4 linked regions of the Homo sapiens genome follow. The protein of the gene in region 2 purifies or fractionates together with the protein of the main gene of each other region. This does not show direct contact. Each region holds a gene or a part of one and is shown on either strand. Other genes may lie near its edges. The genes, in order: HECW2, ARRDC1, ZMYM2 and WWC1.

Region 1 (7,023 bases), on a different chromosome or scaffold from region 2:
GCTTCCTGAAGAAATGTCCTCTGCATGTATCCCCCGCTCCTGCAGCTTCCCCTGCCTCATCCCTCACCCATAACGGCCTCTGTCCTGGTCATGCGCTAATGCTTTAGGGTCACATGGTGGCTACAATATAATGAAGGAAACAAAATTTAAAAAAAAAAAGGAGGAGGAAGAAAAGAAGGGGATCATGTAGGTAGAAAAATACATTACAGAAAAAGAAAATCATTCCTATTTCTGAGTTATGCCAGCCAGACATATGAAATTGCTCTTTGATTTTTAATGCATCCTTACAGGGCATATTAAAGGAATCATTCTAGAGAGCTGCATTCACTGAGCGTAATACAAATTTCAGGTGTAAATTTGTGTCCTTGGATACAAAAACAGCTTATTCTCCAAGTCAGAAGACATCACCTAACTTAGTTGACATTCCTAAATTGTAGAAGACAAAAACACTACCTTTGATGCATAGCATACATTAATCTTCCACTGTGAAATTTTAGAAAGGAAGAGTGGCTAGGTGTTTCTCATAACCTTTGCAGATTACACTAAGGTTGAAGCTGCCAGCCTGTTTGGTTGTGTATCTACAAACCCCGGTTCCAATAGAGACCCATTATTTAAGTTTGAAGATTGCTGTTTAACAGGCCTGTTACTTCAGCAGCAGAAGAGCCATTTTTTAAAAGAGCACTGAATTTGAACTCAAGCCCATCTGGATGCAAACCATGCTGCCTTCTTCCTAGCTATGTGATTAAGTCCCAAGGTCTCCCCGCTCAGAAACAGGAGGCCTAATCTAGAGGAAGGGTTTCAGCTGCCCACTCATTTGTTACCTGTTTCCTTCTCTTCCTGGCCCTGTTTTCAATCTTGCCTCTCTTCTTGCCTGCTGAACCTCAAGGTGAGGAATTCAGGTCATATGTAACCTGCAGCCTTATTTACATTGAGGGGAAAACTACAGAACTTCTCTCTGCACAGCTACGCTCGAGCCAAGAGCCACAGTGGTGTCCATATCCTACCTCCAGTAGCGCCCTCCTCCTGGGCAGTTGCCCCTTCACAGGTGCCTTGGGCCTCCCCAGCACTGCCTTCTTCTTGCGGTGGGCTCTCGGCAGCAGCTGCAGCTCCCTCCAGGCTCCCCCTCCGCTGCCAGACCTCCCCCAGCTCCTCCTGGTCAGGTACAGTGGCCGATTCTGCCCCTGGCCCTTCATCCTCCCCACTGGGCACCTGTACCACAGGTAAAGAACCAGCAGTGCACACGGATTCCTGCGACCCTTCGGCAGGGCCACTGCTGGTGGGCTCTGCTGCACAGGCTCCGTCTTCCTCCTCCTGAGAAGAAAAGGCTGGGGTTTCAGGAAACCGTGCGCTCTCAAGAGAGGAGCACCGTGTGTCCACAGAGGACAGCTGCGTGGTCACACTCTCATTGCAGGAGCTGTCAGCGCATTCCAGGTCACTCTCTCCCTCAGGCCTGGTGCTGGCTTCGCTCACACTCTCTGTCCTGGCAGGATCACTGGGTTCTGTTTCAGAGGACACCTGGGAAGGCTCAGAGCCCTGATCGAGAGACTCGGTCTCACTGACGGCTCTTCGGCTTCCTCCTGATGCATCGGAAGTCCCTGTGTCTGCGCCACTTGTGGGCTGATCTACCTCTTGAGAGCCACACAGTTCAGCACTGCCCTGGTCAGCACTGGGTTGAGGCTCTGGGCCGCCTTCACCTTCCTCTGGGGCTGGGCCTGCAGGTAAGGAGCTCTCTGCAAGCTCTGGAAGATTTTCTGGCTTATCCTCAAAGGAAGCAGCTTCGTGTGTGGAGGCTTCCTCATTCTCAACAGGGTTGTCCTCCAGCTTTGTCTGAGATGTCAGGCTTCCATCATCAGCTCTGGATGCCCTGCTAAACATGATCAGGCCTCCCTCCTCCTCCAAGGAAGATGGGTAACCCAGGTCTTGCTGGAACTCGTGATCTTCTTCATCTGAATCAATATGAAGCATGGCATTGAGTCTTGTGTCAGTGGGAAAACTACTCCTCAGTTTCGGAGAGGCACCCATGGACCTCTCAGAGCAGGTCGCTGTCCCCGGCCTGGAGTGGCCATTGTGTTCGATAGCATCTAAGTAATCATTGAGTGAATCCTGACGTCCTCTGGGAGGTGAGGTCCTTGAAGACGTAGAGGTTAATTCCTCTGTGTCTATTTCCAGAGTGGAGCTAGTCCTGAATGAATGCTTGGGGGTTCCATCGGCAGCACTGTCCTCAGAAACTGGCCCATTAGAGCACACCTGGCTGTCGTGATGGCTCCCTGGCATGTCCTCGTCATCGGAAGGGCTACCTAAGTCTCCATTCACAGAATTGACTCCAAGTATTGTGCCAACAGCTTCTGGAGAGGCATCTGAATGAGAAAACAGCATTTCTAAAAAATTAACCAGAAATAATAAGTGAACGTTTTATGACTTATTTGCTTTGCCACCAATAAGTTCAAAGAAATCAGTCATTCTGAGGGCTTTCTACTGACTTGCTAAGATTCACCACTCACTACTAAATGAGGAGACTGCTAGTCAGCTTGGCACAGGAGCTATGTATGTTAGCATGGCTGAAAACTCTACAGCCCAGTTTCAAAATGCAGGCATCAATCTAAGAGACATTTTTGGGCAAACAGCCTTTCCTACTTGCTTAGAAAATTTCAGCAGGTAATTATTTGACAGCTATTTTACTTTCAAAACAGAACATGAATTCAATTCTGTTCAGAAGCAAACTGACAATCGAGTTAGGTTTAACAAGTTTTTCCTATAGCAATGTATTCATACAGATATATTTATATCTCACCTTCATGAACAGAAGACGTAACCTCCACTTTAAACTGGAGGTACCCACTCACGTGGTCAGCTGGGAGCCTTCTGCCAAGGTTGTAGCTGAGCATTTGATCACTGCAAGAAGAGAAATGCTTCTTTCATCCTGACTACGCTGGAGTCAGCCTTCGCCGTCTTTCCACAGGCCACCCACCAAATCCCTCCTATCTCTCTTAAAACTTTCAGACTCACAAGAACATTAAAGGCTCAAAGCCCATTATAGTCCAATGTAATATTATTCATTCATACAAATGGAACACTTATAAACCCGGAGATAAAAGGAAATGTTGCCATAAGAAAAATTATTATTACGAGCACAAGACATCATATGCTATGTGATATTTTTAAGGACACTGATTCACTCTCTCACTTTTAAGGGTGACCAGGAAAAGGACATTTTGAAGGTCATAAAGGAGTTGTGAAAGGCCTCAAGTTTTAGGGGTTTTTTGACTCGGGTGTAAAAGGGGAGAGAGCCTGGTTCCTCGGCATTTAGCACAACAGAAAGCTGGTTCTAAAAGGACACTCACAGCTAAGGATTATCACCCAACATGGCACGTAGGGCACTGTGCTATGCCCTGAAGAACAGGAGCTGGGACTTAGGGGAGAGAAGCACAAGAACACAAGAATGAAAGCGCCCTTCATAGCCAAGACAGCAGCCCTGGCTGTGTGATGGGGAGAGGACCGCTAAGCTCTCCTTCCTCACCTGTAGAGTAAGGAGGCTGGAGCTGCTGGCCTTCCCTGCTGGGAAGCCTGGCCTATCACTGATTCTCAGGGTGCCTTGTAAGCAGTGCTGATGGGATGGTTGGCAAAGCCAGATGTGCCCCTGTGGTGGGGTCATATCCCAGATCTGGAAGCAGGTTTAGTTTTTGCCTTGCCTGGGCCCCGGGCTTGGACTGTCTGCCTCCTGAAGGATGGAGTTTTCCATCTGTTTCAAGTCTGTTTCTTTATCAAAGTCAAATGCAGTCATTTCATTTTCCTGCACACAAGTAACAATCTTATTCTGAATTAAATGACTTATTCTTTTTCTCTCTTTTTTTTTTTTTTGAGACAGAGTCTCGCTCTGTTGCCCGGGTTGCCTAGGTTGGAGTGTAGTGGTGCAATGTTGGCTCACTGCAACCTCCACCTCCCGGGTTCAAGCAATTCTCCCAGCTTCAGCCTCCCAAGTAGCTGGGATTATAGGTGCCCGCCACCACACTCAGCTAATTTTTTTGTATTTTTAGTAGAGACAGGGTTTCACTATGTTGGCCAGGCTGGTCTCGAACTCCTGACCTCGGGTGATCTGCCCACCTCGTCCGCTCAAAGTGCTGGGATTACAGGAATGAGCTGCCGTGCCCGGCCAACTTATTCTTAATTAAGGAAAATCATCAAAAGGATAGTGCCAAATCACTCCACCTCTGCCCTCTAATGGCTATTTCAGAAGGAAGATACAATGTTTCTTCTATCTACTCTTTGCTCCACTGTACAGTTTAGAGCCTCTAGTCAGCTATGCATTATTAATTTGCATAACTTGTTTTTGGTCTTCTCTATCTCCTCAGTATGACTTACTACTTTACTCACAACTTACAAAAAGCTCACAAAAAGAAAATAGACATTAATTACACATTAAATTTTAAGAGAATGTCAATGAATAAATTTTAGTTGCTTGAATGAATGTATATGTCTAGGAGCTTTATTATAACACTTCTTCAAGTCTAGGTCTCGTTTTAAATGGCTCCAAGACAAGATTGTTTCCGTTTTTCAAGAGTAACAAGTTCTCTGGATGGAATTATTTAGGATAAGGTAGGCATCAACCTGATCCAAGAATTCTGCCCCAGGGAGAAGTTTTTATAAAAAGCTCCAATATACTGAGAGACAATCAAACACTATGAGATTTGACACTGAAATATTAACAGTGGGTACATCTTGGAAAAGATAAAGACGCAAAAAACATATATAATTAAAATAAACTACTTTTTTGTCAAGTACATTTTAATAAGTGTAAGGACACTTTTATTTTTAAAAGAATTGTGTTACTACTTCTTATCAGTATGAAAAGTCCTAGGACTACCAAGTTTCATGTCATTTTTTCCTATATGAACTAATCTCAACAAGATCCCCAAAGGTAAGGGCTGATTACCCGATGGCTTGTCGCTCCAGCAGCCTCTGGACTGGAATGGTTAGTTTCCCCAGAAAACGCTTGATGATGGGACGGCTCTTGGCAAATTTGTCTTTAATTTCAATTTCTAAGACATCAGTAAGAAGTGCAAAAAAGGAATATTTCTGAAAACACAAACAGATAACATGCTGGTTTAAAAGAAAGACAAATATGATACTATATCATTTTATTTGTATAGGAAATGGTATCTCTTAAATTCTAACAACATACAGAGTTCCACATAGCTAGAAATAGCTGCAGCTATTGTCAATCCTTTATTCACTCAGAATGATTAGCATTCACCATGATTAAAAAGCAGCAGTCAAGGATCTGTATGACAAAAGAAGCCCTCTCAGTCAATCATGCAGCCCTTCCTAGTTTCACAGTTTTAGGAGATGTTATCAAATATTAAGTTATGCACAATGCAATTTTAGTACTCCCTACATTTATTGTATCTCAATTCTTTGATATTTAATATCTTGTTATAGAATGGATTAGAATTAACTAGTATATTTGATTGACAATTTGAATTCCTAATCTCATGAAATTCTGAAGTTGCAAAACATAGTTGAAAATACTCCTCCACTTAGTGGTTAAAATAGGAACATCTGCAGAATACTGTGGTTTCCCTGATAAATGTTAAAAGAATGTTTAAATGGAATTTTTCCTTAAGTTTAAAAGGCATACAGGGTCATTTCTTCTGGGACAGAAAAATAAAAGTATGAGGTTAAGATAGCTTTTGTTGTTTTCATTTTAAGAATGCCACTGGGGAAATTTGGATCGGACATTAATAAGGATATAAAATAAATATGAAGAGCTTTACTCACAGAGACTTTTACATATATTATCTTCACTTTATCTTTACAACGATGTAACTTTCTTTTTGAAGATGAGAATCTCAGGATAAGTAAATGATGGTGCCAGGAATCTAACCTAAATTATTTCACTGCTTCCCTGACAGTATCCATGCAACTATAGTGATGTGAATAGTGTTAGCCAACTTTTCACTTAGGTGCCTCTAGGTTTATCTAGTCATAACAATTAAGGTTTTCCAAAGGGCCAAGCAATTTGGCAGTCTGCTTAATGGAAAAAAGTACTTGCTTAGAATAAAAAAGCCGAGTTTAATCCCCACTTCTGTCTCTGAATAGCTAGTCCCATAAACACTTTAAGCTTCAATTTCTTAATCACCAAAATGAAGACATAATAATCTCATCCTTCGTGCCTCCCTTTCAGGCTTGCACTGGTGACATGGTCAAAAACTTTGCAAATTTAAAATGTTAGGAAAATAGTTACTGCTTGTTTCATTATCATATCTATTATGTGCTTTCTAGAATCATATTGAGATATATTTTTATTTCTTCTAGGCTTTGAAATGCATTAGACTAAGTGGCATGCCCTTAAGAGTTTTTTTTGTTTTTTGTTTGTTTTTTTTTTTTTTTTTTACCATGATGAGATCATTAGTAGTTTCTTAAACCAAGTGTAAGAATACAAGCAATATTCAATATCTAAAACCATAGGAACTGCCCAGGAGAAATGCCTTGCTGTGTTGGCAAGTCTCAGATAACTATATCTTTTCTGCAATCGGTTTTAGATCCCCTGATATACCTCTCTCCAATTAAATATTTCTACAATATTGTTAGAACATATTGTTGTCATTAAATATTTAGGGTATGATCTAATTAACTGTGTAACTCCTATGCCAGCCCAGAAAGATTTTCACACTAGTTATGTAAAACATGCCTCAGATCTCCAAGAAATGGAGGGAGAGCTCAAGCTTTGCTCACTAGATAAGAAGTGTCTATTTGTTCATTCTTTGACTTTCCGTAGTTCAAATGAGAAAACCCTTTGCTTGATTTCACTGATATGGTGCACTAAGATGACTGGTAGCATACTGTAGCTGTGAGGAAGTCTAAAATACCATCAACACAATCTGGCTTCACTCAGGATGATGACTCCTTGAATGGCTCATCTAATTAACAAAACTCTAGAAATTCATAAAACATTTGCCAAAGCCCGCAGAGAGAGAAATTCCTTTAATTTGTACTAAATGTATGCTACAACAAAATATCAAAATT
Region 2 (7,879 bases):
GTGAATTTCCCAGGGAGCCCGTTTTCACTGGCCAGGCCAATGGCAGCGGCCATGTTTCTGCCTTTTCAAATCATCGAATCAGGCAGGACCACAGGATGCAGTTCTGCCCACGGAGAAGCCAGAGCAATACATGGGGTCCATTGTGAGGGGTCTCCCTGCTGCTGGCGGCATACGACCCCGCTCCCTCTTCTTTCCAGCTTGCAGACTGCTTGTGATGGCAGAACACGCTGAAGGGAACCGAGCCTTTCGCAACAGGAAAGCCACCAGGCAGGGCTTGGCTGCAGGACTGAGTGGCTCAGTGGCAGTCCCCTAGTCAGAGTGTGACTTCTTCCGCCTTCTGGACTTGAACGTTGCACCTCTTTGCAGGGGCCCTGCAAGCCCTGTCCCTCCTCCCCCATGCAGGTTTAAAAAATGTTTCCTGGCCAGGCACGGTGGCTCACGCCTGTAATCCCAGCACTTTGGGAGGCCGAGGCGGGCGGATCACGAGGTCAGGAGATCCAGACCCTCCTGGCTAACACGGTGAAACCCCGTCTCTACTAAAAATACACAAATTAGCCGGGTGTGGTGGCGGGCGCCTGTAGTCCCAGCTCTTAAGGAGGCTGAGGCAGGAGAATGGCGTGAACCGGGGAGGCGGAGCTTGCAGTGAGCCGAGATCGCGCCGGCACACTCCAGCCTGGGCGACAGAGGGAGACTCCGTCTCGAAAAAATAAATTAAAAAAATAAAAATAAAAAATGTTTCCTGTGTTCAGATGCACAAGCAAGGACAAGCTGCTGGAGGCTGCAGGCCTCTCTGACTCTAAGGAAGATCATGACTGGGCTGCGTTCTCAAGTGACCACTGGAACTTTCTTCTCCAGCTGGGGCTCCCACCTGTTCAGCAGCCCCTCCCTTGCACCACCTGCACTTGGACCATGAAGACCCACCCACTCCTCATCCTCATCCCAAAGGACTCACGCCTGCCACAGAAGCTGTGACCTGTAAGCCACTCCCCCAGTCCTGTTTCCAAATCTGTATCATGAGAGTAACAACCGTGCCACTTGCCAGGGCGCTGAGGGTTAACTGAGGCTGGCCCGTGGCACGTGGAGAGAATTGCATCGGGCCCACCATGAGTGCTCCGAGAACCACTGTCGGCCCTGGTCGCCCATCCCAGTAACAGCAGAACAAGAAGTGGTCCTGCCTGAACCCCAGCCCTGGACTGGGCCAGCCTGAGCTCCAGAAAACTGCTCCCTCCCAGGCCTCCCTCCGCGTCAGCCCTTTAGACAGCCGGTGTCCTCACGGCTGGGTGCTGACTGTCACCGACACTCATCGGCAGAGTAAGTGAGCAAGCTCTGGGGCCCAGGCAGGGCTGCTGTCCTCCTGGGGGCTGAGGGCCTCCCTACTGGCTCCTAGCAGGATTGACAAGCATCCTCTGAATGAGGAAAAGAAACCATGGTCCTTCTGTTCCCATCCCAGGCAGGGCTGGGGGAAACCCCCGGGGGCCCCGGTACACCCTCCCACCTCACTTGCAGCAGCCTGAATCATGTGCTCTCTGGCCCATCAGGGCCCATCTCCTACTCCTTAGCTCACGACCCTCCTTTTTCTCCCTCATTCAGACCAGCCTCTGTGAGGTAGGACCATCAGCCAGTGCTCCCTCGGCTCTTGGGCCAGCTGCCCAAAGTGCTGGGATTACAGGCGTGAGCATTCAACCCACCCACCACGTCCACCCGGAGGCCAGGGGAGCCTGCACACCCAGGCCAGTCACGCACCGCGGGGCCGTCCCTTCCCTGTGGTAAGCAATGGCCTGCTCACCCCAGGCCACGCCAGGGGAAGGACGACAGGGTCCTGCACAGCCCTCAACCAGGATCCAGCCGGCCTCACCACACACCACACCTGTACCCAAGAGATGTGTGTGCTATCTCTGCCCTGCCACGGCCACACCTGCCCCCACCCAGACCCCAAACTCAAGGTTGGGACAGAGGAAGGGAGGCTGTGGGGTCATCCCAGGAGGCCCAGTGGGGCCAGGAGCCTGACAGAAGCACCTACCACCCGGCTTCTTCCGAGGCCCCACAGCCTCAGGCGGTGCAGGGTCAGGGCCACAGCACCATCACCTGTCCCAGGAGGCTGAGAGGACAGAACAGAGACTGTGGGTTCTCAGCAGGCACAAAATCGGTGCTGTTACCCACGCGCGGGCCCAGCGGTCAAGGTCCAGCGGCAAGTCCAGGGGCTGTGGCACAGGCCAAGCAGCCCAGGTGGTTCCCACAGGAGGCCAAGGTAGAGAAGTCCCCGGCAGGGACGCGGCACTCACAGCCAAGGGCCGGGCAGAGGCAGCCTCACCTCGCGGGCCGGCCCTCACCTCCAGGGCGCCCTGCCAGCGGCCACTGCAGCAACCCGATACCCAGTCCCCGAGGCCCAGGCGTCCACCTCGGCGGGGGGCCGGCGAGGCCTGCTGGCGGGTGGCAGGGGGCGCAGGGAGCCGCAGCAGGTGTCTGCACCCCGCCGGGACCGCACGCCCGCGCCAGGAGCGGCTCTGCAGCGGGAGCGCCTGCGCCGGGAGCCAGGGTGCGGGAAGGAGCCCAGCAGGTGCGAGCGCGGACGGGGAGGGTCGCAGGCCTGCGTGCGCCCGCGCTCAGGGCGTCCTCCACAGTGGACCCGCTTCAGGCCCCGCCGGGACCCCGCCGCCCCTCGGCGAGAGGGCAGGAAGGGCAGACGCGGAAGGGCGGCGCCGCCCGGACCTCCCCGGCGCCGCCGAGCCCGCTTCCCAGCAGTCCCGGGCGGCGAAGACAGCGACTCCGCGGGCCCAACCCGGGGCCAGGCGACGGCAGCCGCTTCCGGGAGCCCTGGCCCCGCGCAGGTGCGGCCAAAGGCCCTCCCCGAGGACCCGCGCCCACCTCGGAACGGCAGCGGTGCCCCCAGGCGCACGCGCACGGTCCCAGCCAACGGCTCCCCGGGGCTGTAGACGACGCGGCCGTGGCTCAGGCTGATCTCGAAGAGCTGCACTCGCCCCATGCCGCGGCCTCACCGGCCAGCCGCGCAGCGACGCCCCCGCCCGCCGCCCGCGAGTCCCGGCTCCGAGGCCCGGCCCCGCCCCCTCCTATGCCCCGCCCCCATCCGTCCCAATCCCGGCCTCCACCCCCATCCGGCCCCTCCCAGGCCCTGCCCCGCCCCACGGCCCCGCCCAGCCCCCCGGCCGCCCCGTAGCCCGCGGACTGCCGCTCGGAGGCCCGGCCCAGCCCCTATTCCCCGCCCCATCCGTCCGTGTGGCCCCGCCCCCTCGTTATTCCCCGCCCCTCTGACAGCCTCCTCGCCCCGCCCCCGCCCTTCGCCCCTGCCTCGCCTTCCCAGCTCCGCCCCTGCCTCGGCCGCCCCACCCCTGCCCCGCCCCCCGGCCGCGCTCATCCATCCCCGGCCCTGGCCCTGTCCCGGCTGGGTAGGTGCTGCGCTGCGTCGGGCGCCGCTTAAGGGACTTGAGGCGCAAGCGTCCCGTGCGTCCCCCACGGAGGGAGTCACCGCCGCGTCTCCGTCGGGGGGCAGGGCTGGGGGCGGGGCCGAGGCGAGCTCTGAGACTGGGAAGGTCTCCCCGCTGCACTCTGCTGCGGGCAGAACCCACTCCTCCGCCCCCACCCTCCGCCCGTCCCGCCCAGGGGTCTCCCTCACCCCGAGTCGCGGAAAAACGTCACGGGGCCGCGCGGGCGTCCTGGGCGGGGATGCTCCGCCGCGTAGGACCTGCCCCGCCTCAACCCCCACCCCCGGCTCCTGCCCCGCACCCCCAACCTTCTCCGCACCTACCTCGCGTCCCAGCACCTGTCGCGCCCCTCCGGAACCTGCCCGCCCTCCCGCCTTCCCGGTACCTGCCTACCCCCGCAACTGTCCCGGCCCCCAACACCTGCATCGCCCAACCCCTTCCCCCCCCGCCCCCTGCCTTCCCCGCACCTGCCCGGAGTCCCAGCACCTGCCCCGCCCCCCGCTATCCCCCTCCTTGCTGGCCTGATGGGGTGTGGGCCCAAGGGAGCCACACTTGGGCGGAGGCCCTTGGGCAGGGGTCCGCAGCAGAAGGGTCGGGGGCCAGGTGGGGCGAGGACTTGGATCACTTGAAACCAGGAGGAACACACTCCCATTTATCTTTTTTAAAGGGTCCCTTTGTAGAGAGTGAGCCGCGGGGGGTGGGACTCAAATACCCAGGGGACCTAAGGCGGGAGAGACCGGTTGGGTAGTCCTGGAGAGGGAAGGCGTCGCTCGACAAGGACCAGCTCACCACGGAGTGGGTGTGCGGGCCCCAGTGCTGCGAGTTTTTCTAGGACAGCCGGTGAAGAGGGTGGCCTTCTCTGATGGGGAGGACGGACCTAGATACACATGGTTTGGGGGTGGGAGGGTCATCACATGCAGAGTCTGAGGTGCCACTGATCCCCAATGGACCAAGTACTTCCGTGCATGAGCCTGGGAGTCAAGCACTAAAATGTTGCCATCCCTAGTTGGTAGAAGGTAACAGGTCAGGGAGGAGGAGTCTGGCACCCCAGCAAAGAGAAAGGGGCTCACAGGCTGGAGGGGCCCCCGGGCCAGGCTGGGAGAGGCCCTGAAGCCCCAGGCCCAGCTCACTCCCTTAGGATTCCGATGTTTCCGGAGGTGGGTCTAACTGGCCATGCTCCAGACACTTTCCTGCCAAGGCTATGCACAGGCAGAATTCCCGAACAAGAGAGAAGGGTGCCATGGGATGGCAAGGATTGTGGACAGCCCTCCCGAATGGCAGTCGGCCATGCCAGAAGTCAGAAAGAAGGTGTTTCACCGGGCGCGGTGGCTCGCACCTCTAATCCCAGCACTTTGGGAGGCCGAGGTGGACGGATCACGAGGTCAGGAGATCGAGTCCATCCTGGCTAACATGGTGAAACCCCGTCTCTACTAAAAATACAAAAAGAAAAAAAAAAATTAGCCGGGCGTGGTGACAGGCGCCGTGGTCCCAGCTACTTGGGAGGCTGAGGCAGGAGAATGGCGTGAATCCAGGAGGCGGAGCTTGCAGTGAGCCAAGATCACGCCACTGCACTCCAGCCTGGGCAACAGAGTGAGACTCCATTTCAAAAAAAAAAAACAGAAAAAGAAAAAAAAGAAAGTGTTTCAAGCAAGGGACAGACAGACTGTATTGCAAGCTACTGAGATGGAAGACAATGGACACAGAACACAGGTGGCCTTTATCCCAGGTCAGCCACAATCTAAGCCCCACAGGACTCTGCACATCCTTGATTCTGACCCTATCTCCCACCCATCCTGTGTTCCAGAAACCACCACCAGCACCAACCGCCCTGTCATTAGACTCTTCTTCTCCAAGCATACTTCTAGCTGCACTCTCATGAAAACCTGGCTTCCCCTGGAGCTTTCGGGTGTAGAGATATCTTTTCGCAGGATCCCTCTACCTCTGGGTCTGTAGGTGGGGTTGGGGCCCTCCTGGCTCCTTCCTAACACTACCAGGCCATTCTCCACCCTGGGAGCTACCATGTGTAAGCTTCCTGGTCTCAGAATCACCAGCACCACCTTCGCTCTGGTCGGCATCTTCATTTCTTGGTGATTTTAGCTCCTAACTCACTGTCATTCCCTCCATCTCCAAGTGTGGAAACTCAGTGCTTCTGAATCCACACAGGCAATCCTTCCAGCCTCCTGCCCTATATCCTAAAAGTACCTGGGTTTTGTTTGAATCAGGTATAGTAAAGTGACAGACTAGAAGACAAGTGCCACAAAGGAAGGATTTAGTACTCGTGGTTCTCAGGAGGAGGGGCCCTGCCATGCCACGCAGGGCCAGAAGGGGAAGTACCAGGGTCAGGAGGAGCCAGGAGAGAGCATGACCCAGAGCCTTTTTTGTGTTTTCCTCAGGGTGAAAATGGACAAGGCAGGGTAGGTAAGTGTGAGCAAGTTTAGGATTAGATAGCTTGAATCATGTCAGCAGACTCTAGGTCACAGCAGGGGGCTCTAGCCGTCTGGTATCTGTCCCTGGGGGATGCAGGGCAGGAGAAATGCTGGCTTGGGGTGTGAGAGTCAGATCAGGAAGAGACTGGGGATATGGGCTCTGGATTGGTGTTTATAAAGTTGTTTGCTAGCTCTGGGGATTAGCCAGCCCTGGAAGGGGCAGCATCTCCCTGACTAGTAAAGCCCCCAAGATGTCAAAGCATAATAACATACAGAAAAGGAAAAGTGTGGGCCGGGCGCAATGGCTCTGCCTGTAATCCCAGTACATTGGGAGGCCGAGGTGGGCAGATCACCTGAGGTCAGGAGTTCAAGACCAGCCTGGTCAACATGGTGAAATCCCATCTCTACTAATAATACAAAAAAAATCAGCCGGGCATGGTGGTGGCACACGCCCGTAATCCCAGCTACTCGGGAGGCTGAGATAGGAGAATCGCTTGAACCCAGGAGGTGGAGGTTGCAGTGAGCCAAGATTGGGCCATTGCACTCCAGCCTGGGCGACAAGAGTGAAACTACATTTCAAAAAAAAAAAAAAAAAGGAAGGGAGGGAGGGAAAAGAAAAGTGTGGTAAACACGTGTCAGTCTCATGGTTCCTCCTCCAAAACCCTCCTCTACCTCAGCAGTCTCCTTCCTAGGGCGTGGTGGTCCCTCCTCAAAGATCCCGCCCACCTTTGCATCCCTGCTGCTCTTCCCACCGGGGGGCTTCCCCTGGAACCTAGGCTGGCCCACAGCTTGCGTTAACTGGAAGAATTGCAATGAAACAGGCTGGGCGCAGTGGTCCATGCCTGTAATCCCAGCACTTTGGGAGGCCGAGGCGGGCAGATCGCTTGAGATCAGGAGATCAAGACCAGCCTGGCCAACATGGTGAAACCTCATCTCTACTAAAAATACAAAAATTAGCCAGGCGTGGTGGCACGTGCCTGTAATCCCAGCTACTCAGGAGGCTGTGGCAGGAGAATCACTTGAGCTCGGCGGGGGAGGTTGCAGTGAGCTGAGATCACGCCACTGCACTCCAGCCTGGGTGACAGAGTGAGACTTCATCTCAAAATCAAACAAAACAAAAACAGTCAAGGCTGGGTGTAGTGGCTCACATCTGTAATCCCAGCACTTTGGGAGGCTGAGGCGGGTGGATCACAAGGTCAAGAGATCGAGACCATCCTAGCCAACATGGAGAAACTTCACCTCTATTAAAAATACAAAAATTAGGCCGGGTGTGGTGGCTCACGCCTGTAATCCCAGCACTTTGGGAGGCCGAGGCGGGTGGATCACAAGGTCAGGAGATCGAGACCATCCTGGCTGACATGGTAAAACCCCATCTCGACTGAAAATACAAAAAATTAGCCGGGCGTGGTGGCGGGTGCCTGTAGTCCCAGCTACTCGGGAGGCTGAGGCAGCAGAATGGTGTGAACCCGGGAGGCGGAGCTGGCAGTGAGCCGAGATCGCGCCACTGCACTCCAGCCTGGGTGACAGAGCAAGACTCCATCTCAAAAAAAAAAAAAAAAAAAAAAAAAAAAAAAATATATATATATATATATATATATATATATATATATATATATATATATATAAATTAGCTGGGCGTGGTGGCACGTGCCTGTAGTCCCAGCTACTCGGGAGGCTGAGGCAGGAGAATTGCTTGAACCCGGGAGGTGGAGGTCGCAGTGAACCAAGATTGCGCCACTGCACTCCAGCCTAGTGACAGAGCGAGACTCCATCTCAAAACAAACAACACAAACAAAAAAAGAAAGTCATAGGAGCAACACACATTCACGTGGAGGGGAGAATTTGATGGTGACAATTGACACAACCTACCACCCTAGCCAACAACAGCAGAACCAACCAGCTAAGCCCATCCTAAACTACAGAATCATGAGAAAATACATAGTTGTTTAAAGCCACTAAGTTTTGGGGTGGTTTATTATTATTATTATTATTATTATTATTATTATTATTATT
Region 3 (7,023 bases), on a different chromosome or scaffold from region 2:
TGGGCGGCCCTCTATATTGGCAGGTTCCACATCCGTGACCAAACACAGACTGAAAATACAGTATTCTGCCTGTAATCCCAGCACTTTGGGAGGCTAAGGTAGGCGTATCTTCAGCCCAGGAGTTCAAGACCAGCCTGGGCAACATGGTGACACCCTGTCTCTACTAAAAATGTAAAAATTAGCCAGGCACAGTGGCATATACCTGTAATCCCAGCTACTTGGGAGGCTGAGGTAGGAAGATTGCTTGAGCTTGGGAGATGGAGGCTGCAATGAGCCGTGATTGCACCACTGCACTGCAGCCTGGTCTACAAAGCAAGTCCTTATCTCAAAAAAAATGAAAATAAAAAATTATTTGAGGATGTGAAATCTGTGTAGAAGGCTGACTGTAGGGGTGTGGAACTTGAGTATGCATAGACTTTGGTATCCATCCACAGGTGGTCCTGGAACCAATCCCCTAGAATACTGAGGATAACTCTAGTTGCAGTTACTAGTTTAATGAAGCTAATAAAACCATCTTTACCTTTCTTCGACAGTTAACTTAGATTTGGTTGAATCTCTGTTGTCATGATTGATTGCTTTGTGTATAGTATGTATATGTTCATCCTCGAGAGTGACATTTCGCGGATGTCTGTGCCTGCTCTGTGCATATTAAGTTTATATTTGGGTTCATTTTCAAAAGGAATATTTGTGGGCCATGTGCAGTGGCTCACGCCTGTAATCCCAGCACTTTAGGAGGCTGACATGGGCAGATCACCTGAGGTCAGGAGTTCAAGACCAGACTGGCCAACATGGTGAAACCCCCTCTCTACTAAAAATACAAAATTAGTTGGGCATGGTGGCACATGCCTGTAATCCCAGCTGCTGGGGAGGCTGAGGCAGGAGAATCGCTTGAACCCGGGAGGCGGAGGTTGCAGTGAACTGAGATAGCGCCATTGCACTCCAGCCTGGGCAACAAGAGTGAAATTCCATCTCAAAAAAAAAAAAGAAAAATATTTGTGAAGCCATAAGGTTTAGAACTGAAACATAGAATTTCATATAAAATATTATTTTATCCCAAATCACTTGCAGTACTTAGAAGAACACTGTGTCAGGGCTTGGCTATTATAGTCCCCTGGGGGACAGAAATACTTCAAAAATTCTTTTTCTTTAATTTGAATTCCAAAAAGTAGATGCTTGTATTCTAGGCTTTCTTATCACAGTTAACATCTTAGTTTTGTATGTGTTCTTTTCAAAGCTTTTATCCAGTGTGATATTACAAAGTAGATCATGTGTCAGAGTAATTTTTAATTTGGAAAAATACCTTTTAATGTTTAGTAAACCTAACTCAAAATGATTTGGTTAATTAGGTGCCAGTTCCTGTTTTTCTGCCTGCTCCATTGGACAGCAGTGAGAAGATTCCTGCAGCAATTGAGGAGCTAAAAAGCAAGGTTTCTTCAGATGCTCTTGATACAGAGTTGCTTACAATGACGGATATGATGAGTGAAGACGAGGGGAAAACAGAGACAACCAACATCAACAGTGAGCTACACTAAATTATACCTTGCGAATAAGTGTTAACATTGGTTATTTATAAGTATTGTTACAGTACTTTCCAGGGCATATCATTTTGTTTCAACTTATGTGGGGGTGAGGAAAGCATTGTAACAAAAATGTTTTTTATATTAAGAGATCTACACTGTATTTAGCCAGGTGCCCTCAGACAGATATCCGAAGCAGGAATTTGGTCTTTGGTCTCTGTTTTAAGCAGGATTTGACTTGTAAAATCAACTCAAAATTATTCTTGTTAATGGAGTAGTGCTGATGCAAAACTATAATAACTTGTAGTAGACTCTAATGATGATCAAAACTCTTATTTTGTAATAGTTATCCCTAGTTTTTTGTTTTGTTTTGTTTTTTTTTTTAGATGAACTCTTGCTCTGTTGCCCAGGGTGGAGTGTAGTAGCATGATCCCGGTTCACTGAGATCTCTGCCTCCTGGGTTCAAGCTATGCTTCTGCCTCAGCCTCCTGAGTAGCTGGAATTACAGGCACGTGCCACCACGCCCAGCCAATTTTTGTCTTTTTAGTAGAGACAGGGCTTCCCTATGTTGGCCAGGCTGATCTCAAACTCCTGACCTCAGGTGATCCACCTGCTTCCCAAAGTGCTGGTATTACAGGTGTGAGCTACCACACCCAGCCCCTAGTTTTCTTTTATTGCTTATACTAATAAAATAATTTGCATTATCTAAACCAGAGTTTATCTTAACCTCTGTTAGGGCAGTGCTTGCGCTACATGGTATAACGTGATGAGTGTGTTGTGGATGGTTCTAAGTCACTTAGAATATTTATTTTCCACCCTTAACCCTCTCTTGATACCCAAAGTCCTATTTCAACCTTGAGCTAATTCTTACCCTTACCCTAGAGGACAATCAAAATACTATAATTTTCTCTGGATTTAATAATGAGACAGTGTTTTTGAAGCACTGTGGTAAGGAGTTGTGAAATTAGTGGGTTGCAACCAGTGTTTTTGTTTAAGAAAAGAAAAAGCTAAGTGGAATAGGGTAAGAGAAATGACAGTGTGAATCCCTCATAGAAAGGGTAAGTATTATTTTGTGAAACCAGTGTGTATACAGATGTCTTTCTGTTCCCCACCATCACCTTGCAGTATGTGCTGGATAAAATGCATTTCTTGCCATGATTACAACACAAAAACACTTGAAAGCAACTGATCGAACCATTAAAAGGCAGTTGTTAATATGCATATATTGAACAATCTGAGAAACCTGGGTCAAAATTCAAAGAGTATTGAAAACTACAGTTGTCTACCCTCATTAGTTTATTTTTGACAAAAAGTTGCTTTTAGAAATACTTTACTTGTTGAAGTTGTTTTACTATCAAAGCATACCTATTAGCTTTTGAAGGGAGTCCTCCTGTAAAATTTATAGGATTAAAAGTTTTCATGTGCTTGTGACTAATTATGAGGTTTATAGTGGTTTACATTTTGAGATAGTTATATATATAATATGCCCTTTTCTTTTGTGACATTATACGTATTTTTTTATATTGCATTTAAAATTAAATGACTTGCTTTTGCCAGATTAAATACAGATACCATTGGGGTTTTCTGTTTTGATTCCTAATGATAATATGGATTGATTTCAGGTGTAATTATTGAAACAGATATAATTGGTTCAGACCTTTTGAAGAACTCTGACCCAGAGACACAGTCCAGCATGCCTGATGTACCATATGAACCAGATTTGGATATCGAAATAGATTTTCCCAGAGGTACTCAAAACCTTTATGACTATGGAATTTAGTTATGGAGTCAACTGTGGTTATGATCATTTACCATTTGATGTTTGTGTCATTGCCTTTTAGCAGTGTTCATATTTTTTATTCTTGTTATTTTTTAAACTCACCTTAAGAGTTAACTTCATATTTTGTTGTTGTTTTTTTTTAAAAACCCACCTTAACAGTTAACTTCTGGAATGAGATCACTTGAGTCCAGGAGTTCAAGACCAGCCTGGGCAATGTGGTGAAACACTGTCTCTACTAAAAATATAAAAATTAGCCAGGCGTGGTGGTGCATGCCTGTAATCCCAGCTACTCGGGAGGCTGAGGCAGGAGGATTGCTTGAGCCCAGGAGGTAGAGGTTGCAGTGAGCCGAGATTGTGCTACTGCACTCCAGCTTGGGCAGCAGAGTGAGACCCTGTCTTTAAAAAAAAAAAAAAAAAAAAAAATTCTAGAAGTAATTCATTATAGAAAGTTTAAAGAAGTGTTTGTGTCCTTTTTAATTTAAAAATGTTGTTAGCATCTGGGTGCGGTGGCTTATGCCTGTAATCCCAGCACTTTGGGAGGCCGAGGTGGGTGGATCACCTGAGGTCAGGAGTTTGAGACCAGCCTGGCCAACGTCGTGAAACCCCGTCTCTACTGAAAATACAAAAATTAGCTGGGCGTGGTGGTGAGTGCCTGTAATCCCAGCTACTGGGGAGGCTGAGGCAGAATTGCTTGAACTCAGGAGGCGGAGGTTGCAGTGAGCCAAGACTGCACCATTGCACTCCAACCTAGGCAACAAGAGCAAAACTCTGTCTCAAAAAATATATATATATAAAAAATATATAATATATATAATACATAAATATAATTTTATATATTATATACATCATGATGTATATAATATATAAATATATACAATATATAATATAAATATAATTTTATATATAATATATATTTTATATATATTATATAGTTTTTATATATATAATATATATAGTTAGCTTTTTTTTAAGATCCTTTGAAAATTAAGTTCACCTTCAAAGGAAAAATTATTTTCAGGTCTTTTGTAAAATAAGTGTGCCCCATTTTTCATTATTTTCTTAATCCATGGATGGCTAATGAGCACACTGAGTAGAATGTAAAACATTAGTTTTTGGAAAAAACATTTAATAGATTGAATCAGATTTGTACCAAGACCATTTAGATCTTGTAATTGGATTTCAGACTATAATAATTTTTCTGGTATCATACATTTTCATGAAAATTTTATGTTGATATTCATTTTATATATGTTTTTAGGAGTTTGAACAGTGTTTGTCAGAATTCACAAACCATGTTAGGTACAATGAGTCATTTACTCCCCAGCCCAGCCTAGATTGTCCCCATGTATGAATGCTGGTTTACATCCTGTGGTTAGTTCTTTGTTGGCTGTGTTTATGTAACCCTGTGCTATTTCATTTAAAATAAAAGTTCTGATTTGGTTGTCAGCTGCTGAGGAGCTTGATATGGAAAATGAATTTTTATTACCACCTGTTTTTGGCGAAGAATATGAGGAACAGCCCAGACCTCGATCTAAAAAAAAGGTACATTCACTTAATAGCCTATATAACAATATTTCTCTATAGGCAAACAAGGATACAGTGTTCTTTTAGTGTGCCTGAGAATATGGGAACATATTTTGTTTTCTAGGTTGGAAAATAATTTATTTTCTATTTATATAGAATATAGTAATAATATATTACTGCTATTTATTACTATTATTTATTACTATTTCTATTTGTATAGAAATAGTAATTATTACTATTTCTAGTAATAATAGTAGTAATAATTTATTTCTAGTAATAATTTATTACTGTTTCTAAGTAATAAAAATATCTCAGATTTAGTTGATACCTCAACTAAACTTGTATTGATACAAGGTCAAAATAGAAAACAGTTGCTAAAGTAGTAAGTTCAATTATTTGACAAAAATTTAGACTGTTTTCTAGGGAGCTGTTTTTTCCACGATTATTTCTGATGAGATGATCAGTGGGGTTGAAGTACACAGTTTATTATTTCTGGTCTCTTTTAGGCATACCAACACACATAGAAAGACATGCTGGACAGTTTGATCATTCAGGTAGACCAAATCTACATGCATTAACAAGTGTAATTGTTATAATATTCTGTCAACTTTCTGTGTTTCTGACTTCCAACATAAAGCAGGTTTTAAAAATACCTTAAGAAAGATAGCTTTCACAAATTGTCCCCAAAAGAAAGAAAAAAAACCGGAAAAGGGAGAGAATACTTGGAGTGGAATGAAGGTGGACTTCTGCTTGACACCAAACACAACAATTAACTCAAAATGAGCCATAGACCTAAATGTAAGAGCTAACAATATAAAACTCTTAGAAGAAAACATAGGCCTAAATCTTAATGGCCTTATGTTAGGCAGTTTCTTAGGTAAGATACCAAACGCACAGGGAAGAAAAGGAAAAATAAATAAATAAACTGGACTACATCAAAATTAAAAACTTTTGCATTGCAAACAGTGCCATCAGGAAAGTGAAAAGGGGGCCAGGCACAGTGGCACCTGTAATCCCAGCACTTACAGCACTCAGGAAGGCTGAGGCGGGAAGATTGGTGGAGCCCAAGAGTTTGAGACCAGCCTGGGCAACATAGTGAGACCTCTACAAAAACTAAAAAATAAAAACCAGCCAGGCATGGTGGCACGTGCCTGCAGTCCCAGCTACCCAGGAGGAGGATCGAGGCTGCAGTGAGCTATGATCGTGCCACTGCACTCCAGCTTGGGCAACAGAGCAAGACCTCTCCTCAAAACAGAACTCCAGCATGGATACTTACCTGGCAGGGGAGATACCGTGATTACAAAACTCTAGCATGGGTGACAGAGCAAGGCCCTGTCTTAAAAAAACAAAAATAAAACAATAAAATAAAAAAGTGAAAAGTACTTAAGTGTCACTCTCTATAAGGTGGAGTTGTTGAAAAGTTCTTCAGTTTCTGTTACAGTAATATTTAGATTATTAGTTTATTGTCTTATATTTATTTTCTCATCATTGGTGACTCTCACCACAGAATTTAATATGATTTTGTTGCACAAAGTGATTTATGTAGAAACATCACATTTCCTGGAATATTAATTGACTGTTGTCAGATTCAGGAATACCAGTCAGTTCAAAGCAAATACCTATATTTCATTTTTTCTTTTCTAATTTCATGACACATTAAACAAATAACTATATTTTTATGACAGATTAAACAGATAACTATATTTGTAATTACAGATGACCGTTGTACAATGCAGTGGTTGGGCTCTGATCCCCCCTGCACAGTCACAAATTTGTGTATAACTTTTGACTCCCTAAAAAGTTAAGTACTAGTAGCCTACTCTTCACTGAGCCCCCCTGCACAGTCAAAAATTCATGTATTACTTTTGACTCCCTAAAAAGCTAACTACTAGTAGCCTACTGTTGACTGGAAGCCTTGCTGATAACAGTTGATTAACACATATTTTATATGCTACATACTGTATTTTTATAATAAAGTTAGCTAGAGAAAATGTTATCAAGAGAATCATATGGGAGAGAAAATATATTTACGATTCATTAGGTGGAAATAGATCATCCTCATTGTCTTCAAGTTGAGTAGGCTGAGGAGGAAGAGGAGAGAGGTTGATCTTGCTGTCTCAGGTGGCACGATTGGAAGAGGTAGAAGGAGGTTGGAGAGGCAGGCACACAGAAAAACATACGTGTCCAAGTGGACCCCTGCAG
Region 4 (7,023 bases), on a different chromosome or scaffold from region 2:
CTTCCCCCGGGATCCTCTGCCTCAGCCTTTTCCTCTTAGCAGATGCCATCTGCAGGGCCACTTGGCTGCCCGTAGCAGTAACCGCACAGTCTTCCACATTTACTCCCTCAGCCTCAGCTGCTCCTGCAGCCCAGGCACTGTCTCTGTCTCTGCATTGCTCAAGCCTCCACCATCTCGGTTACACCTCACAGCCACCCTCCCCGCCTTCAGTCTTCAGCCTCCTGCCCATTGTCCTCCCCACAGTCATGGTGACCTCAAGATGATAAGGTCTTTGCTAAAGCCCCTGCTTGGAATGTTCTTCCCTCCTGCACTTTTCCTAGCCAACTGCTGTCCATTATCCATCCTTAAATTTCTCTACTAGTCAGGAATCTAACTGCTGCAAGAAACAGCCCCCAAAGTCTCCGTGGCTTCATACAACGGGTTTATTTTTTGTTCATATAATGTCTAATTGGGTATGTCCAGTTAACAGGCAGCCTTCCATGTGGTCATTCAGGAACTCAGGCTCTTTCCATCTGTGACGCCTCCCCTTTGAGTCCACAAGAGTCCATGCAACAGACAGTAAAGAAGACACACACACTTTTCTTAACTACTAGTGCTCACATCCCATTGGCCAGAACTTGGTCATACGCCCTGCCCACCCGGCCACAGGGAAGGCTGGGAAAATGGTGGAGGCAGGGTACACACCACCAGTCTCAGCCACAGAGTCACTTGACTGGAAGAGGCTCACCTGCCAGTTCAAATTGGGCCTCTCCTTTTGTGTTCTTTTCTACCATTTGTACTTTTTCTTCATGGACCTTGTCACACACTGTGTTAATTAGATATTTGAGTATTTCTTTAATATCGGTTCTCCCCAGTAGAATGTAAGCCCTATAAGAACAGAAACAAGTCCTACTGTGCTCACTCACTACTTTATCCCCAGTGCCACAGGCAGGGTCCAGTACAAAACGGGCATTCAGTAAATATGAGCTGAAAGATGGAGGAAGGAAGAGAAGGAGGGTATGGTTGGGTGAAATCCTAATTCTGCCACTAATTCCACAGCTTTAGGTAAATTATACAACTCTAAGGGCCTCGATTTCCTCTTATGTAAAGTGGTAAAAATCATTCTTACTATGCAGCATTATTGTGTGACTGAATTAAGGCAGTGTCCTAAGGTTCCCAGCAGAGTGCCTGATATATATATATAGTGGGTGAGTGATATTGCAGTTATCATAGGATTATAATATATGTGGAAGCTCTAGCTCCCCAGATGCCGTGGTCAAATGCTTTACGGAAAGTTCTTGTGCCTGTGGGTCTGGGTGTACATGGGTAAGAGTGCATGCCTGTGCTTCCTTTTGGTGCATCCCTCGCATGCTTTCTCTCCTTCCAGGTTAAAGTTAAACAGTAAGAGGAACCAGCTTGTGAGAGAACTGGAGGAAGCCACCCGGCAGGTGGCAACTCTGCACTCCCAGCTGAAAAGGTGAGTGGTGGGCGGTGAGGCCACTGCTCCCCTGGGCATGGCCAGACATGGGTGTCCCCAGTGTCCCAGCCCAGGCTCTACCCTTCACTTGTCCTCCGTGGCTTGAGAGTGGATGTTTAGAAGCATAGCAAATGGATTGTCAGCAGACTCGGGCGTGGCCTGGTGTAGCTAGGAATAGGGGTCTTGACCTCTCCAGACTGATAGCACAAAGAAGGCCCCAGGCAGGTAATAGGTAGTCTTAAGAGACTCGGCTGGGTGTCATGGCTCACACCTGTAATCCCAGCACTTTGGGAGGCCAAGGTGGGTGGATCGCTTCAGCTCAGGAGTTTGAAGCCAGCCTGAGCAACATGGCGAAACTAAAAATACAAAATTAGCTGGGTGTGGTGGTGCATGCCTGTGGTCCCAGCTACTCAGGAGGCTGAGGTGGGAGGATGACTTGAGCCCGGGAGGAGGCTTACCGTGAGCCGAGATTGTGCTACTGCACTCCAGCCTGGGTGATAGAGCCAGACCTTGTCTCCAAAAAGAAAAAAAAAGCCTTAGGAAACTCACACTGCCACCTACCTGCACAACACAGAGAATGTAGCCTCAGACCTGGGCCTCCATGAACAACAGTGCATCAGTGGAATTCAATAACATTTTGTTCCATTAGATTTTTTTCTAATGGTGGTCTTCTCTTTGTAGTAAGTGATACTGCTTTTCAAATTACACTTAGGATGTAAAGTTTCCTTTTAATATAGATGTTTTAAAGTATTAAAACAGTGAGTTGGGGCAGGCGTGGTGGCTTACGCCTGTAATCCTACCACTTTGGGAGGCCGACGCAGGCGGATTGCCTGAGCTCAGGAGTTCGAGACTAGCCTGGGCAACACGGTGAAACCCCCTCTCTACTAAAATACAAAAAATTAACCGGGCGTGGTGGCAGGTGCCTGTAGTCCCAGCCACTTGGGAGGCTGAGGCAGGAGAATTGCTTAAACCCAGGAGGCGGAGGTTGCAGTGAGCCGAGATCGCCCCACTGCACTCCAGCCTGGCGACAGAGCAAGACTCCATCCCCCCCCAAAAAAAAAAAAAAAAAAAAAAACACAGTGAGTTGATTTCAAGAAAGATATTAAGAAATCTTTATTACATAATGGATTCAACTATGAAAACATATCATACAAATGCAACGTAGCCAATTGGAGCTTTGGGAAACACAGATTTAGAGGAAAAAGTGGACTTTTAAGGCAGCTATAACTTGAGTCCAAAGCCCAGCTCTGCCATGTCTTGATTATGTGGCCTTCTTGGGGTATCAGTTTTCCATGAAGTGGGGGTGAAGGGTCTACCCTAGAGATTGCCAAGCAAGTCTAGTGAGATCATGGTGCTTTCCAGAGCTCAGCAGAAGGTCTCAGGGGGCCCACTTCACTGTGTGCATCTCACTGTCCTTCCCCTCCCTGTGTCCCAGTCTCTCAAGCAGCATGCAGTCCCTGTCCTCAGGCAGCAGCCCCGGATCCCTCACGTCCAGCCGGGGCTCCCTGGTTGCATCCAGCCTGGACTCCTCCACTTCAGCCAGCTTCACTGACCTCTACTATGACCCCTTTGAGCAGCTGGACTCAGAGCTGCAGAGCAAGGTGGAGTTCCTGCTCCTGGAGGGGGCCACCGGCTTCCGGCCCTCAGGCTGCATCACCACCATCCACGAGGATGAGGTGGCCAAGACCCAGAAGGCAGAGGGAGGTGGCCGCCTGCAGGCTCTGCGTTCCCTGTCTGGCACCCCAAAGTCCATGACCTCCCTATCCCCACGTTCCTCTCTCTCCTCCCCCTCCCCACCCTGTTCCCCTCTCATGGCTGACCCCCTCCTGGCTGGTGATGCCTTCCTCAACTCCTTGGAGTTTGAAGACCCGGAGCTGAGTGCCACTCTTTGTGAACTGAGCCTTGGTAACAGCGCCCAGGAAAGATACCGGCTGGAGGAACCAGGAACGGAGGGCAAGCAGCTGGGCCAAGGTAGAGAGCACCATACCCAGAGGGTGGGAACCAGGAGGAGGGAAAGAGATACTCTGTGCTCAGAACCCCCCAGTGATCATTCTAGTCGATATTTACTGACTGCTTCTGTGTGCTGGGTCTTTGTATGGCAAGTATATTTATTCAGTGGATGTTTATTAACTCAGTATTTTTGAGGTCCTGTGTGAAGGGTTTTCAGTAGTAGATTCTGTCCTCCAACAGACATTTAGCACCTCATAAAACTAAATGTCAGGTCATCCTGTGCTAATGGATATACATGGATTCATCTATTCATGATTATAGATATGCTGGGTGCCAGGCACTGGGTTGGTCACTAAGGATTCTGTGTTGAAGACAGACAGGGTCCCTGTTCTCATGAAGCTTATGTTCAAATGGAGGCACAGGGAATAAACCTGCAACCAAACAAGCACTACAAAGAAAATAAAACAGGGAATGTGATCCAGCCTTTCTGGTTAGAGGTGGGACTGCCAGGGCAGGTTGGGTTGTGAAAGAAGATGACATTTGAGGGTGTCTTGAATGGTGAGATGGAGCCAGCCTTGGGAAAAGCAAGAGCAAAATCTCTGAGGTCAGAGCAAGGGACTAGAAGGGGAGCCAGGAAGCCATGAGTCAGAGGTAGGGGGTTACCAGTGAGGCTGGAGAACTAGGCAAGAGTCCAGATCCTGAAAGGCCTGGTGGGCTGTGCTAAGGAGTTTGGATTTTATCCTAATTGCACTGGGGACCCATGTGACCGTTTGAAGCCAGGAATGATATGATCTGACTCCCATTCTGCATGGGGTCAGAAAGAACATTTTGGTGTTGGCCGGAATTTAAGTTGGAATCTTCAAAATAGAAGATGATGCTGACATTGACAGCTAAGATTTATTAGGAGAAAACCTTTTTATCTTTAGCAGCAACCACATAATAAATCATAATAGTTAACTTTTATTGGGGATATATTATGAGTTGGGTAATGTGCTTGATACATGGTGAAATCAGTTATTTCTATTCTGTCCATTTCACTGGTGAGGAATTGGAGATTCAGAGAGGTGATGTCACTTGCCTTAGGTCACCCAGCCAACAAGTGAGGAAGCAGGGATAGGAACCTGAGTGTTTCTGGCCCCGGAACCCAACCCCCTTATTGTCATGCCTTAGGCTGGGAGGCAGTTCAGCATGCACATTCATGCCAACTCCTGGTGCTTGGGGCCCCACCAACCCCATCTGGCTCTGGGTGTGAAGGTCAGGACTGAGTAGGATGCTCAGTAAACTCACCTGGGCCTTCTTGGCTTTCCTGGCCACAGTAAAAATAGCTCACAATAATCATAGCTATGATATATAGCGTACAGGTGTTTAGGATTTAGGTACTTCTCTGCATATTTACTCATTTAAGCCTTACAACACCTCTGGGAAGTGGGTGCTATTTTTAATCTCCTTTTTTTTTTTTTTTTGAGATGGAGTCTCACTCTGTCACCCAGGCTGGAGTGCAGTGGCACCATCTGGCTCACTGCAACCTCCACCTCCTGGGTTCAAGCGATTCTCCTGCGTCAGCCTCCCGAGTAGCTGGAATTACAGGTGCACATCACCATGCCTGGCTAATTTTTTTTTTTTGTATTTTTAGTAGAGGCGGGCTTTCACCATGTTGGCCAGGCTGGTCTCGAACTCCTGACCTCAGTTGATCCACCCACCTTGGCCTCCCAAAGTGCTGGGATTACAGGCGTGAACCACCAAGTCCAGCCCCTTTTATCCCCATCTTAAAGATGAAAAAAGTGAGGCACAGTGAGGTTAAAAGACTTGTCTGAGGTTAGTCCCACAGAGTGAAATGGCAAGACCAGGACTGGCACAAGGACCACCTGCTCAGAACGCACACTGTTATCCATGTGCTGAGTTCTGTCTACAAAAAGCTGGTGCTCCTGGCTCCAGGTGAGGCCAGCTAGAAGCAGCCAGACCCATGTCAGCTCTGTGGCTCCAGGCATGGGCAGGAGTGGTGCTGCTGTGCCCAGAATTATCCATGTGTGTACAAGGGCCAGTGGGAGCATGGTAGGGAAATGAGGTTTCCTTGTTAACGAAAGGCTTTGAGTGCCAGTGGTTTCCTTAGAAGAGGAGCCGAGAGATCCCTGGGTTTCCCTCATCAGGAAGGGAGTCTTGCTGAGTGCTCTCAAAATAAAAGCAAGCGCCCTACTATAGCAGGTGGCAAGCCTCAGAAAATTGTTCCCTGGAGAGGAGGGGGTGCAGGTGGAACCTCTAACAAGGCTCAAAGAGCATGCCTCTGATATCAATATTAAGCCAAGTCAGGACACTCAGACCCCAGCTATGTCCTGTGAAGTGACCCCCTCCTCTCCCCTCCCTAACAGTGTCTTTGGGGCTTGTGGGCCTCAGACAGCACATTAGGCTGGGCACACACAGGTCTCGGGATGGCATTTCCTTCATGCCATCTCCAGAAGCCTTCCCTGCAGCAAGCAATGCCAGGCAGAGCTTAGACGCTAAGCAGGTTATGTGATTAGTGCCGCTGTTCAGTCAGCAGACAAATTAATCTCCTTAAGTGGTTTAGTGGAGGGTGGAGATGCGTGGGTCTGAAAGCAGGAGGTCTCCGCGGGCTCAGCAGGCATGGGACGCAGGCTCAGCTTCCCCATCACCAGCACTTGCAGTCTCCCAGACCCGCCTTGTCACCCATCGCCGTCCCCGGCCTGCCATGCCCTGGACTCTGTGCCCCTCAATGCTGCGAGCCCTTGCCCTGCTCCGGTCTGCCCGCAGGTGCTCAGAGGTGTTAGCTGTGAGGTTGTAAGATCTGGATCTGGCCTTCCCCGCTGCAAGGAGGGCAGGAATTGTCTTATTCATCTTTGTAGTTCTGAACATGGCAATGGGCCTGGCACATCGTGAGTGATCATTACTTGGGCAAGGAAGGAATGTGCAGCACGTGTTGAGTGCTTAGTTATGAGCCTCAGATCAGAGACTTTCAAGGGCCCCTGTTAAGGTTAGGGAAGAGGAGGAGCTGAATTCGGAGTGGAAAGGGATAGGCAGTGGAAGAACGGGTGCTTAATCTCTCCCTTCTCTGTCCTGAGGGTCCAGGGGCTGTTATTTTGCCCCAGGTGGGTAGGGATGGATCTGTTAGGTTGATGCAAAAGTAATTGCAGTTTTTGCCATTGAAAGTATGGATATCTACAGTGATAGGAACAGTAGTGGCAATAAGGATAGTTGTAATGAGTTTTGCAGAGCACTTTGCCTGCCTGCACCAATCTCTATATTAAGGACTTCCCTTATAATGTCTCGCTGAGTCCTGTCAACAGCCCTATAAGTAGGTATTATTATCCAAGTTTTACAAATGAGGCATCTGAGGCTTAACAGGATTAAGTCAGTATCTCAAGGTCATGAAGCAGTGAGTGGTGGAGCCGGATTTGAATCCAGGCAGTTCGACTCAAGAGCCTGGGATGGTAAAACACAAAATCACATGTGACTCCTTCCATCACCCTAAAGCAAACTTTTTTTTAATTTTTTTTTTTTTTTTTTTTTTTTGCTTTAGCATTTAGAGGTGGTTGGAATTTGGTGGAACCGTCTGTCTTCCATAGAGAGTGTATCAAAATTGGGAGTTCAGGCTCCCCGAATCC

Evidence for each region.
Region 1: the proteins of ARRDC1 (region 2) and HECW2 purify together in Homo sapiens (affinity purification with mass spectrometry; 5 studies listed by BioGRID and IntAct, with this or other methods). This does not show direct contact.
Region 3: the proteins of ARRDC1 (region 2) and ZMYM2 purify together in Homo sapiens (affinity purification with mass spectrometry; 5 studies listed by BioGRID and IntAct, with this or other methods). This does not show direct contact.
Region 4: the proteins of ARRDC1 (region 2) and WWC1 purify together in Homo sapiens (affinity purification with mass spectrometry; 4 studies listed by BioGRID and IntAct, with this or other methods). This does not show direct contact.

The regions. Positions count from the first base shown.
Region 1 is NC_000002.12:196,317,548-196,324,570, forward strand, and holds part of HECW2 (E3 ubiquitin-protein ligase HECW2), read right to left. Parts: intron 5,074-7,023; coding exon 4,931-5,073; intron 2,893-4,930; coding exon 2,792-2,892; intron 2,379-2,791; coding exon of another isoform or gene 2,358-2,378; coding exon 1,005-2,357; intron 1-1,004. UniProt on the Homo sapiens protein: E3 ubiquitin-protein ligase that mediates ubiquitination of TP73. Acts to stabilize TP73 and enhance activation of transcription by TP73. Involved in the regulation of mitotic metaphase/anaphase transition.
Region 2 is NC_000009.12:137,600,822-137,608,700, reverse strand, and holds the start of ARRDC1 (arrestin domain-containing protein 1), read right to left. Parts: upstream 3,016-7,879; 5' UTR 2,984-3,015; coding exon 2,866-2,983; intron 1-2,865. UniProt on the Homo sapiens protein: Functions as an adapter recruiting ubiquitin-protein ligases to their specific substrates. Through an ubiquitination-dependent mechanism plays for instance a role in the incorporation of SLC11A2 into extracellular vesicles.
Region 3 is NC_000013.11:20,059,707-20,066,729, forward strand, and holds part of ZMYM2 (zinc finger MYM-type protein 2), read left to right. Parts: intron 1-1,346; coding exon 1,347-1,518; intron 1,519-3,139; coding exon 3,140-3,265; intron 3,266-4,744; coding exon 4,745-4,839; intron 4,840-7,023. UniProt on the Homo sapiens protein: Involved in the negative regulation of transcription.
Region 4 is NC_000005.10:168,420,642-168,427,664, forward strand, and holds part of WWC1 (protein KIBRA), read left to right. Parts: intron 1-1,366; coding exon 1,367-1,456; intron 1,457-2,891; coding exon 2,892-3,427; intron 3,428-7,023. UniProt on the Homo sapiens protein: Regulator of the Hippo signaling pathway, also known as the Salvador-Warts-Hippo (SWH) pathway.